2 linked regions of the Homo sapiens genome follow. The protein of the gene in region 1 interacts with the protein of each later gene in a pairwise test. Each region holds a gene or a part of one and is shown in the gene's direction. Other genes may lie near its edges.

What was found.
Region 2: the proteins of SRSF9 (region 1) and DUSP11 interact in a two-hybrid assay, tested with the Homo sapiens proteins (one study listed by BioGRID).

Annotation. Positions count from the first base shown.
Region 1 is NC_000012.12:120,468,041-120,471,952, reverse strand, and holds the start of SRSF9 (serine/arginine-rich splicing factor 9), read left to right. Parts: upstream 1-2,204; 5' UTR 2,205-2,343; coding exon 2,344-2,531; intron 2,532-3,912. UniProt on the Homo sapiens protein: Plays a role in constitutive splicing and can modulate the selection of alternative splice sites. Represses the splicing of MAPT/Tau exon 10.
Region 2 is NC_000002.12:73,778,307-73,782,218, reverse strand, and holds the start of DUSP11 (RNA/RNP complex-1-interacting phosphatase), read left to right. Parts: upstream 1-2,244; coding exon 2,245-2,345; intron 2,346-3,842; coding exon 3,843-3,912. UniProt on the Homo sapiens protein: Possesses RNA 5'-triphosphatase and diphosphatase activities, but displays a poor protein-tyrosine phosphatase activity. In addition, has phosphatase activity with ATP, ADP and O-methylfluorescein phosphate (in vitro). Binds to RNA.

The DNA of each region.
Region 1 (3,912 bases):
AGAATCTCTTGCTTATTTCCGTCTGATAAAAATCCTACAAGCAGCTGGGCGCGGTGGCTCACGCCTGTATTCCCAGCACTTTGGGAGGCTGAGGCAGGCGGATCACGAGGTCAGGAGATTGAGATCATCCTGGCTAACACGGTGAAACCCTGTCTCTACTAAAAATATAAAAAAATCAGCCGGGCGTGGTGGCAGGCACCTGTAGTCCCAGCTACTCAGGAGGCTGAGGCGGGAGAATGGCATGAACCTGGGAGGCGGAGCTTGCAGTGAGCCGAGATCACGCCACTGCACTGCAGCCTGGGTGACAGTGTAAGACTCCGTCTCAAAACAAACAAACAAAAAATCCTACAAGCAGAATTACAAGATCGAAGGGTATATGTATATTATGAAAGCCTGATGTATACTATCAACTTGTATTCCAAAAAAGATATACACTCAGTAGTATATGTGGGTGTCTAGTCTTTGGTTTGTTTTGATTTTAAAATGCTCAGATGGTATAATGAGAAATCAACTACCTTCTGATTAAATGTGTGGTTTTAGTCCCTTTTTTTGTTTGTTTTTGTTTTGTCTTGTTTTTGAGACAGAGTCTCCCTCTGTCACCCAGGCTGGAGGAGTGCAGTGGCACAATCTCGGCTCACTGCAACCTCTGCCTCCCAGATTCAAGCGATTCTCGTGCCTCATCCTCCCAAGCAGCTGGGACTACAGGCGTGCCACCAAGCTTGGCTAATTTTTTTTTTTTTTTGTATTTTTAGTAGGGGGGCGGGTCTTGCCATGTTGGCCAGGCTGGTCTTGAACTCCTGGCCTCAAGTGATCCACCCACCTCAGCCTCCTAAAGTGCTGGGATTACAGGCATGAGCCACCACGCCCAGCCAGGTTTCATTTTTAATATGAAAAATCTTTATTTATTTTTGAGACAGTCTCACTCTGTCACCCAGGCTGAAGTGCAGTGGCATGATCTCGGCTCACTGCAACCTTCGCCTCCCGGGCTCAAGCAATTCTCCTGCCTCAGCCTCCCGCGTAACTGGGATTATAGGAACACGCCACCACGCCCAGCTAATTTTTGTATTTTTAGTAGAAACGGGGTTTCCCCATGTTGCCCAGGCTAGTCTCGAACTACTGACCTCAAGTGATCCTCCCGCCTTGGCCTCTCAAAGTGTTGGGATTACAGGCGTGAGCCACCGCACCCAGCCTGAACAATCTTTAGGTTAGGAGTATTCCAGCCGGGCGCCGGGCTCAAGCCGGTAATCCAACACTTTGGGAGGCCAAGGCTGGAGGATCGGTTGAGCCCAGGAGTTCGAGACCAGCCTCTCTACAAAAAAAATAGAAAATAAACTAGCTGGACGCAGCGCAGACCCCTCACGGCGCCCCGAGGTGGGAGGATCACCTGAGTCCAGCGAGATCGAGACTGCAGTGAGCCGTGTTCGCGCCATTGCACTCCAGCCTGAGCAACAGAATAAGACCCTGTATCAAAAACAAACAAAAAGTCTTCTGGTGCAAGGCCTCACTGTAAGGTCCCTGGGTTCAATGCTCCGCGTTCTGGGATGTGAATGTGGAAAAGTAAGTGCCAAGGTGGGTGTCTACCTGAGCTCCATAAGGACTCAGTACTTAGGATGGGAGCATGGCTCTGGGTTCCATTCCTGACCCCTCTGTGGCCTCAGACTCTGCCCGGGAGAGGATGAAAAGCACAAGTCGGATGCACTCTATAGTGATCGCTGTGATACTCATTAAGAGTCTTACTCCCTCGACTCCGACAAACTCAAGGCCAAGCTATGGAGTCCATCTCATGCTGACACCGTCAGTTCTGAGCAACTGTAAAATGGGGACAGGGTGGCCCGGGGGCCTACTGACCTGAGGTGGGGGCCGCGACAGCCCGGCCGCTGCGGGGTCAGCCTGCGGTCTCCGCCTGACTCCAGCTCTCCTGCGCCCCGCAGGCCCTGGGCGCTACCCACGTCAGTGAGTGCTCACAAGTCTGTGAGGTAGGCGGCGCCACAGAGAGAAACTGAGGCGCGGGAGCCCAAGCCACTTGTCCAGCGCCTCAGCCGAGCGCGAACCGCGCTCGGGGATGGCATCCACACGGCCCGGCCCCAGGCTCTCCCTGTCAGCGCCCGAAGGCCCTTCGCACCTCCAGGGGGCGCCGGCCTGCGCGCACGCGCAATGGTCGCAGCCGCGTTCTCTTTAAGAGGACTCCTTTTGCCTCCGCCGACCCCTTCGCTTCCGCTCCGCGTTCCCACAATGCAGTGCGGCTGAGCGCCTCGGAGCCCGCGGGGACGCTGCGGGGGGACCCGTGCTGAGGCGGCGGCGGCGACGTGGGCTGCGGCGGGCCCGCGGCGTCGGGCGGTGCGGATGTCGGGCTGGGCGGACGAGCGCGGCGGCGAGGGCGACGGGCGCATCTACGTGGGGAACCTTCCGACCGACGTGCGCGAGAAGGACTTGGAGGACCTGTTCTACAAGTACGGCCGCATCCGCGAGATCGAGCTCAAGAACCGGCACGGCCTCGTGCCCTTCGCCTTCGTGCGCTTCGAGGACCCCCGGTGAGGCCCCCGCGCCCCTGCCCTCTCCTCCTCGGTGCCTGAGGCCCCCGCCTTCCCTGCTGTCCCCTCCCCCAGGGCTCCCCTCCCCCCGGCCTCCCCTCCCCCCGCCTCCGCGCAGACCCCTCACGGCGCCCCCTCACGGGTGGAGGATGAGGCAGCCTCTCCTCGCAGGCCCGGGCCGTCCTTCGCGCCGTCGTCACTTCCTTTATTTTTATTATTCCAATATTTTACTTAGAAACCCAAAAGCTGAGCCTTTGGAGGGCCCAAGCCCGCCTGCACCGGCCTCGGGGGGTCCAAATGAGCCTTGTCCGCCTCCTGCCTGGGGCAGCACCGTAGGGGGAAGCGGCCGCGGGGCAGCGCGGGGGTCGCCGTTCGCCCTTCCCGCTCGCCTCTCCCCCGGCCCGTGCTCGCCGTGGCTGGAGAGCAAGCTGCAGGGTCGCGGATGCCGCTGGAGGTCGTGGAGGGATCTCTGGTGGAATAGCTCGCCGTTCGCGCGCCCCGCCCCGCAGGCCAGGGCCCGGGCTTTGTAAAGGGATCACGGATTCGGGAAAACTTCTAAAACAGCCGGAGTGGGGCTCTGATTTCACTTCCCTCCTTTGATGAGGGAGGCTTGGCGAGATGCTAAAGGTTCCAGGGATTTGGAAACTCTAGATTCCTAACCCCGCTCTAAGGAGTGCTTGTGATTTTGCAAACAGCGTCGGCCCTCAGGCCGGAAAAAGCCCAGGAACTTTCAAAACTGTGGTTGGTGGTGGTTAGCAGCTGCGGCGCTGACCTGGTCACTCCACTCCGGCCAAATAAGAGCCCGCACCCTGTTTTCCTAGCATCATTTGCTCCCGGGGAACGCGGAATGTTCGTAGGGTGTCCGACCTACCTGGGGTGGACGTATTGATAGGGCAAGGGGAGCATCTGAGGAAGGGCAGGCAGGAAGCACCGCGAGGCGTTGATGGCTGAAGAGTCGACTCTGACAGCTCATCCCTAGTATCTCCTCATTTGCCTCAAAACCGGAACTGGGCATTTTTACCCCTAAGCCGGAGAAGGCTATGCCTCGCTTATTTAGTAACCGTGCCATTGTGGTTTTTCAACAGTTGCTATGGGTCAAGTGCCATGGTGTGTATTTAGCTTTTTTTCTTTCCTTCTTATTTTTTTAGATTGATAAATTAGGGGTTTCACCATGTTGCTCAGGCTGGTCTGGAACTCCTGAGCTCAGGTGATTCTCCCGTCTCAGCGGATCAAATTGTTAGGATTACAGGCGTGAGCAACCCGCCCAGCCTGTATTTAGTATTTTTAACAATTTATGAGGTGTAGGTACTATTTTTTTTTTTTTTTTGAGACAGGTCTTCACTCTTGTTGCCCAGGCTGGAGTGCTGTGGTGCGATCCCGG
Region 2 (3,912 bases), on another chromosome or scaffold:
CCTCAGCCTCCCAAGTACCCTGGACTACAGGTATGAGCCACCACGCCCAGCTAATTTCTGTATTTTTAGTAGAGATAGGATTTTACCATGTTGGCCAGGTTGATCTCTAACTCCTGACCTCAAGTGACCTGCCCGCCTCGGCCTCCCAAAGTGCTGGAATTACAGGCATGAGCCACCATGCCCGGCCACAATATTTTACAATTTAATGTCAAATTTGAATGTGGGCTGGGCGCAGGGGCTCACGCCTGTCATCCCAGCACTTTGGGAGGCCGAAGAGAGCAGATGACTTGAGGTCAGGAGTTCAAGACCAGCCTGGCCAACTTGGTGAAACCTTGTCTTTACTAAAAATACAAAAATTAGCCGGGCATGGTGGCACACGCCTGTAGTCGCAGCTACTCAAGAGGCTGAGGCAGGAGAATTGCTTGAACCCAGGAGGCAGAGGTTGCAGTGAGCTGAGATCGCGCCACTGCACTCTAGCCTGGGTGACAGAGAGAGACTCCATCTCAACAACAACAACAACAAATAATTAAATGTTCCTAATTGTAGGTTTGTTATGTTCTGCTATCCTGTCTTTTTCTTTTTCCAATGAACAATTTATGAATATTGACACATTTTTAATGATGTGGAAATTTTCAGAATTGTAAATGTTTATGTATTTAAAACTGGTTGGAAAAGTACTGTCTCAAAAATGTTAATAAAGCTAGCAGTCTAGCTTTATTAATATTCATTTATTCAATAGCTCTGACCTTTCTTATCCTTGGTTTACCCAGCTCTGAAATGGTTGCAAAGATTACTAAAAATATATGTAAGTTACTTTCATAAATTAGAAACTAAGAAGTAAAAATTACTTTCAAAAATCTGCCATTGGCCAGGTGCGGTGGCTCAAGCCTGTAATCCCAGCACTTTCGGAGGTCGAGGAGTGCTGATCATGAGGTCAAGACATCGAGACCATCCTGGCCAACATGGAGAAACCCTGTCTCTACTAAAATACAAAAAATTGGCTGGGAGTCGTGGCATGCACCTGTAGTCCCAGCTACTCAGGAGGTTGAGGCAGGGAGAATTGCTTGAACCCGGGAGGCGGAGGTTGCAGTGAGCTGAGATGGCACCACTGCACTCCAGCCTGGTGGCAGAGTGAGACTGGGTCTCAAAAAAAAAAAAAAAAAGTCTGCAATCATAATTACTTACAGTTTAATCTGGAATTTAGTACTCTATTCTATTTTCAAAGCTGCTATAGGGTATGCTGTCCTTTGTAGTTCCACTTTTAGCAGAATTGAACGTTTTTCTAACGGGTACAGATCTTTATGCTTGAGACTGTGTGGAAACCTTGGACTTGAGCTCCACTCTCAGTTATTTTTTGTATTTGCTAAAACTTAAATACATTCTGTCCACCTCTAGCATGATACCTGGTATGTGATAGGAACCCAATAAAAGTTTGGCTTTGATGGGAGTGTATGTTTCTACATTATTTTTGGAGGGTAATTAGGTAGTATCTTTCCAAATTTTAAGTTTGTATGTGTTTCATTCCAGACATTCTACTTCTAGGAATTTAGATATAGTTGTATATATGTATAAGGATGTTCACATTGCAGCATTGTCTGTAACAAGATTTGAAAAGAACCTGAAAACAACTAAAGGTCCATTAATATTGAACTGGCTAAATACGTTATGGTACTTTTAATTATGTTACTCATAAGCAAGTAAATTGCCTATAGCCATTAAAAATAGAATCTATGTATGCATAAATTGACTGGGATAATCAGTGTTTAAGGTATACTGTAGAATATGTACAGTTACTCCTTTTGTATAAAAATAGAGGATATACATATATGTGAAAGTAAATATGTATACAAAATATGCAAAATGTGAATGTAAGCGCTGGTAAATATCTAGAAGAACACACAAGGAACCGGGGCGTGGGGCGGATCGGGCAGAGGGACTTCCCTGTGCCTCACTGTTTGAATTCTGAAGGGTGCATACACGCCCTTATTGACCTGTGCTACTGGCCTCTGGCTAAAGAGGGCGCTGTAGCCACCAAAGTCCTGTTTACAGATCAGGAGTCTCAGTAAGCCAGCGTGGCTACGCCATCACGACCGGCGGTGGCACATGCGCAATAGCGAGACGCTGGAGCGCGGCGTAGGTGGCTGCCGAGTCTTTTCCTGTTTAGGGTCTTATCCTGGCATTGAGGGCGCCGGACTGGCGCTTTTGGCCGACTTGGCATTGGGTGGGCGGCTTCTTGGGACCCACATGAGCCAGTGGCATCATCCCCGCAGTGGCTGGGGCCGGAGACGCGACTTTTCAGGACGCTCCTCAGCCAAGAAGAAGGGCGGAAACCACATCCCCGAAAGGTAGTATGTCTTGGTCCCTTGGCGTGGCCTTTCCAGCTCGTGGCTTCTGGGTCTGGGCTTCATCGTTTGTGGTCTCTGCCTCTCGCCGTTGCCATCGCAAGCTTGACTTGTCCGCCGCTTGCTTTGAGGCTTTGACCCTCTGCGCCACCCGCTGTAGCTGAAAGGGGCGATGTCTGTGATGTCCTGTGATTTCTCCATATTCTTGTAAAAGGGAGGTTCTGGCCATTGCTCTTAGGTAAAATACGGAAGGATTGCTTTAAGGTGGGACTGTTACTGTTGGGGACACTCCTTAATTCCCAAAATGGAACCTCCTCAATTCCTTGTTACGTTGGCACGGAAAGTGTAATGGTTTGAGTTAGGAACCCAGCAGTAGTAGCGCCCTGAGATCTCACATGGAAAGTTGGTTTGTATTGTTTCCAGAAATCACAAAGAGCATACTTTGTTACTTCCTAACAGGCCTCATTTGAAAGATAACTCCTTTATACGTACAAATGATTAATTTTGAGACTTTGCACGTAGGTGCATTGAACTGTTTTTACTCCTTGAGACCATCCTCCACCATCTCATACCTCAATAAATCCTCTTCATTTTATCTACTATCTTTTGACTGTCACTTTCTGTCAGTACCCTAATACAGGTCTTGCCTGACTTATTGCAGTGGGGTTCTAATTAGTGAATCTCCTGTTTGTTTTCTTCCAATCCGTTTTTTTGTTTTTGTTTTTGGGATGGATTTTTGCTCTTCTCCGCCAGGCTGGAGTGCAATGGTCCAATCTCGGCTCACTGCAACCTCCGCCTCCCGGATTCAAGCGATTCTCCTCCCTCAGCCGCCCAAGTTGCTGGGATTACAGGCGCCCGCCACCACACCCGGCTAATTTTTTTTGTATTTTTAGTAGAGATGGGGTTTCACCATGTGGGTCAGGCTGGTCTCGAACTCCTGACCTCAGGTGATCCACCTGCCTCAGCCTCCCAAATTGCCGGGATTAACAGACGTGAGCCACCGCGCCCGGCCAGTTCCTAGCATTATTAAGTGAAGTTCACAGTCCCTCTTCTAGCAGGTTTTCTCTTAAAATATGAACTTGAAGTTTCCTACTAATTGAACTTTATGGCATCAGTCGTATGAAAACTAAAAGCGTGAAGTGAAATAATTGAATTTAAATTATTTCAGTGAATATGTTTGTATTAATGGCACTTTAGTATCTGGTACTGGGCCAAGTTTAACAGGGATACAGAAGTTCTGGGTATCTCCGGTTTTATATAGGCCTTATTTGAGTTGTACTGTTGTGTTGGCTTGTGTTCGTTTTTATGATGGGGAAACAGGAGAGAAGGACGGTATAGGTCGTTACTTGGTGGGGTTTAATAAGTGGAGTGGCGAAATGCAAAGCAGAGAGGAGAGAGGACATGTTGTGCGGGCTATGATTCCCATTTTCAAAAAGTCTTATTTTGTGCAAGGAAACAAGGCTAACATACAATTTGGCTAACAAAAAATATATCTAATAGGTGGAAAGACTATCTCCCAGTTGGACAGCGGATGCCTGGGACTCGTTTCATTGCTTTCAAAGTTCCTTTG